Linked DNA regions of Homo sapiens: region 1 is linked to region 2. The links come from fine-mapping of genetic effects on gene expression. Tissue or cell type: hypothalamus. Region 2 holds a variant in brackets; the other region holds the start of a gene. All regions are shown on one strand. Distances are from middle to middle.

Evidence for each region. PIP is the estimated chance that this variant, and not a neighbour inherited with it, causes the effect.
Region 1: GABRA6-AS1 starts here. The variant in region 2 is fine-mapped to the expression of GABRA6-AS1 in hypothalamus (GTEx, PIP 0.93).

Annotation. Positions count from the first base shown.
Region 1 is chr5:161,688,188-161,690,687 of GRCh38, forward strand. It overlaps GABRA6-AS1 (GABRA6 antisense RNA 1), which reads right to left and starts at 1,223. Exons shown (of 2, transcript NR_189170.1): 1 at 1,073-1,223. It overlaps GABRA6 (gamma-aminobutyric acid type A receptor subunit alpha6), which reads left to right. Exons shown (of 9, transcript NM_000811.3): 4 at 762-982; 5 at 1,067-1,149; 6 at 1,449-1,592; 7 at 2,014-2,166.
Region 2 is chr5:160,781,727-160,784,494 of GRCh38, forward strand. The region is part of intron 2 of ATP10B (ATPase phospholipid transporting 10B (putative)); the gene reads right to left. Among named protein-coding and RNA genes, the nearest start is that of ATP10B, 69 kb to the right of the region's middle. The variant A/G (reference allele first, on the strand shown) is at 1,284.

The sequences.
Region 1 (2,500 bases), 910 kb after region 2:
AATCACTGCTTGCCATAATACGTTTCATAAAGGAATTTATATAGTAGGCAAAGCAATTATTGGCAATACTTTGATATAATTACAAGTTGTTATTTGTTATTGACTTTTGCAATAGCTCTTATTATAATTCTTAAACATTTTAATGCTATTTCATAAAAGCCACAGATTAAGTCATAATTTTGATGATACATACTTAAATGATACCCTCTTTAGAATAGTCACGGTAACACTTGTTTATATGTTCCCTGAGAACAATATAAAATAATTTTGATGTGCAGCTATAGTGTGTTTATCAAGTAAGGTTTATCTATGTGTGGAATTTTACTGAATGGTACTCTGAAGCTCTGAAATACCTTTGAGGGTGAATGAGGTGCAAAGGGGAATAGTTAGTCTAACCGATGGTATAAAGGCCAGCCAGCACAAAGGCTAAACTAAATATTTCCATATTTTTTTTCTAGATTAAGAAGGACATATTGATAGATGGAAATATGGATGACTGGATAGATAAAGAGGAAGAATATTAAGGAAAGTCAAGGTGGAGGAGGGAAGTTTACATATCACAGCACTATCTTTTATAACAATGCAAACTTTCTGAGTTTGAGAACAATAATAACTAGCTAAAATTATAGCTTTGTGAGAAATTATTGCGATAAAAAGTTGCTTTATTGCTTAAGTTTTGAGATTGGGTGTATAGGCTAGTGAATAAACTATTCTTAGCAAACTATCTTTCCAGCCCACACAAATATTTTATTTTCTCTTAGGAGTATACGATGGATGTTTTTTTCCGCCAGACCTGGACTGATGAGAGGTTGAAGTTTGGGGGGCCAACTGAGATTCTGAGTCTGAATAATTTGATGGTCAGTAAAATCTGGACGCCTGACACCTTTTTCAGAAATGGTAAAAAGTCCATTGCTCACAACATGACAACTCCTAATAAACTCTTCAGAATAATGCAGAATGGAACCATTTTATACACCATGAGGTGAGGTTTCTCCAATTCTATTTCCCCTGCCTAAATGATATGTCCATAATACTAACTCAGAACCGTTGATTTCAATGTTTCTAGGCTTACCATCAATGCTGACTGTCCCATGAGGCTGGTTAACTTTCCTATGGATGGGCATGCTTGTCCACTCAAGTTTGGGAGCTGTAAGTTACAACAGGCTTCTGAGAGTCAAATAATACATCCAAAATATATAATTACTTGGTTTTAGTTGATACTGGAAATCAAGGAAGAAATAGAATCATGACACTATCAGTGTGATTCTAGGAATATACTTAATCATTCTGTCAATCTCATAAATTGAGGCTTTAGTCACCAAGATTAAAGAAAACATTAAATACAATCTATGTTTGTATTTCCTTTTTTATAGACAATGTGCACTTTGAAGGAAAAAAAGACAACTCGTCAAATTCACTGCTATATTTAATTTGTTTCAAATATTTAGATGCTTATCCCAAAAGTGAAATCATATATACGTGGAAAAAAGGACCACTTTACTCAGTAGAAGTCCCAGAAGAATCTTCAAGCCTTCTCCAGTATGATCTGATTGGACAAACAGTATCTAGTGAGACAATTAAATCTAACACAGGTAAGAATTTGACCAAAGGATGGAAATAATCCCTCAGGATGACTCCAGTGCACATTTTCAAAATATCTATTTCTTTTTCCTTCGCCTTAGCCATTCTCAGCTAAGCATGCTGTTTTGCAGTGATGAGTAGCTTTCCTTAAAACTGATTTTGCAACCAGGTGCATATAAAGATTTGTGTAATCTTGGAATAAGTAGTTTTTTTTATGTATATGATATAAAGAACCCTACTGAAAACAATAAGTTGATGTGTCTCTTCGCTCTATCATCTGCTGATCAAGTAGCTTTCTCATATACTGAAATGTACCTTTGCTTGTTTTCTTCCAGTCAATGTTAATTTAAAAGTTGTCAAGATTTATATTCAACTGCATTCTTTTTGCAGACTGTCAGCAGTAATAATACTGATGTATGTGTCTTCCAACAGGTGAATACGTTATAATGACAGTTTACTTCCACTTGCAAAGGAAGATGGGCTACTTCATGATACAGATATACACTCCTTGCATTATGACAGTCATTCTTTCCCAGGTGTCTTTCTGGATTAATAAGGAGTCCGTCCCAGCAAGAACTGTTTTTGGTATATGTCACATTTTGTACTTCACGTACATTCATCCTCCACCTTTCATTGCTTGTGTATTTTGAGTAAATATTTACACTGGTGCACTTTTTCAATCCACAAAGAAAATAGGTTCCTGTCTCATCCAGACATATGTATCATGCAAAATCACTGTCATTATATCACAAATTGTGTGATGAATCAAAAAAAATTTTGTCTCAGTGAGAATTATGGCTGGTTTCCTATGACTTTCATGTGTCCTATTTGCAGTGCTTTATCTTGATTTTCTTTGTCATAACTGAGGAAAAGCAGAAAGTTAAAAACTGCATGTAAATCCATGAAAGCAAAAGATTAA
Region 2 (2,768 bases):
GTCCAAGTTTATTCCTACTTTAATTTTCATAATTGCACAGCAACCTATCTTGTTTAAAAATGGAAGTAAAATATAAAAATAAATCAAATGCTGGCCATAAAAATAGGTTGACCTTGAGGCCAGGGTTGAGTGGTTTACATTAAAGATAAACTCTTGACTGACAAGGATGGTCCATTTACTACAACCTGCTCCTTATACAATACTTTCTGAGGCAGAATTATTTTTTGCCTTAAAACAGTAGAGTAATGCCTAAAATTGTATGGTTCTACATTTCAATTGCTGTGGGATAGAAAGTATTATATACAAAAGAGATACTGGGGGTTGAGTAAGGAGATTGGGAAGATAATAGATTCCCTAGAAATGCCACTCTTTAGGAAGTTTCTTGCAAATCTCTTCCTTTCAGGAAATATTTTCTATATAATTTATTCACTCTTTCACCAAAAAATGTTGAAACGCAGTAATGTAAATATATTAAACACTTGGTATATATTGGTCAGTAACAGCAACAACCACCAGAACTGGCTCCTGCCCACAGGGTGTTTACAGTTTAGACAAGGCACAGAGAGACGTTGCTGAAGTAAACACTAAAACAAATCTAACGGTTGTCTGCAATAACAGCAGTTTTCTTATTGTTCTGTAACAACTCGGTGTAAAAATGTGGCATCAGCAAAGTTTACATTTATTGCACTTTGTTCCCATTTTCTTCCTCCATACACACACACACACACACACACACACACACACACACACACACTCACTCACTTTAGGAGCCCAGCCTCACAGGCGTATCTGAGCCCCCAGAAGGGATCATGCAGTATCAATATTCTAGTCCTCTATGGTTCTTCCCTCCCATACCTGACCTAGCAATGACTCTTCAAGGAGCTTACTAAAGAGACAGCAATATGTGCAGAGAAATATCTCTGTGCAGAAGAATGTTTTGATGTAATTAAAAATAGTGATGATATAGCTAAGAATGACAGGTATAGTTTAAAAGAGGATTGAGTAAAGAAATTATCATTAATTCCTGAGGTGCAATACTAATCAATGGCAAAAAATGACATGTACATACACACACACACAAACTACAAAGGAAAGATATCTATAATATTGAGTTCACAAAGCGGGTTTGAGAATAGCTTGTATAAAAGGATCTCACTATGTAACATTGTATTCATATGTGTTATGTGTTTATACATAACAGGTATTTCCATTATATAGAAGTATATATACACATATATTACAAATTACATATACACATGTAAGTTGTATGCCTCCTCCAGGAG[A/G]ACTTTTTAATTCAAAGGAAATTTTTTATTTTCTTCCATAAGTTATTGTGGTACAGTTTGGTTACATAAGTTCTTTAGTGGTGATTTGTGAGATTTTGGTGCACCCATCACCCAAGCAGTATACGCTGCACCATATTTGTAGTCTTATCCCTTGTCCCCCTTCCACTCTTCACCCCAAGTCCCCAAAGTCCATTGTATCATTCTTATGCCTTCGTGTCCTCATAGCTTAGCTCCCACATATCAGTGAGAACATACGACGTTTGGTTTCCAATTCCTGAGTTACTTCACTTAGACTAATAGTCTCCAGTGTCATCCAGGTCACTGCAAATGCTGTTAATTCATTCCTTTTTATAGCTGAGTAGTATTTCATCATATATATATATATGTGATGGATATATCTATCCATGGATATATCCATGGATAGATATATCCATCACATATATATATATATATCATATATATATTCCATCATATATATGATCGATATATATCATATATATACTATATATATGGGTGATATATATGGTTGATATATATATCATATATATATGATACACACACACACACACACACACACACACACACACATACACACACACACCACAGTTTCTTCATCCACTCACTGATTGATGGGCATTTGGGTTGGTTCCATGATTTTGCAATTGCAAATTGTGCTGCTATAAACGTGTGTGCAAGTATCTTTTTCGTATAATGACTTCTTTTCCTGTGGGTAGATACCTAGTAGTGGGATTGCTGGACCAAATGGTAGTTCTACTTTTAGTTCTTTAAGGAATCTCCACACTGTTTTCCATAGTGGTTGTACTAGTTTACCTTCCCACAAGCAGTGTAGAAGTGTTCCCTGTTCACCGCCTCCAAGCCAACATTTATTGTTTTTTCATTTTTTGATTATGGCCATTCTTGCAGAAGGACTTGCCTCTATGCATATACACATCCTGTGTCCCACTTATCATCGCGGCTCATCAGGGAACTGAAATTGAGGAAAATAATAATAGCTTAATCCACCTTGGCCAGGTAGCATATTTGTACTATAGCTCAAAGCTTCGAAGCCCAAGTGGTGTGGATCTTTGAGGCAGATCAATAAAAGACAGATTTTGAGACAGAAAAGTCTTTCTGAAACTCTTGGATTATTTCCTATAAATGACCAAATATAAGGCCATACACAGCTCACAGGAGACTCTTAAAACTGAATGGTGAGATCTTGCAAAATTATCTTCTTTTGGCTGCACAAAGCAATTGCCTATACTTGAATGGTGGTAAGCAATGCTTGGGACAATGAATTTGAGAGTCCTTTTTAATAGAATGAACTACTGCAGGTAATTTTCAGGCAACAACTCAAATTCTTATCTAAAAAACTAATTTTTAGCTTTTCTTTTCCTGTTGATGCCTTTTCAGGCAGGTGGAGGATTTTCTTAAGCAGTTGGTATCTGCGGAGTTATGCACATCTTTGTGAAGAGCCCAGACAAA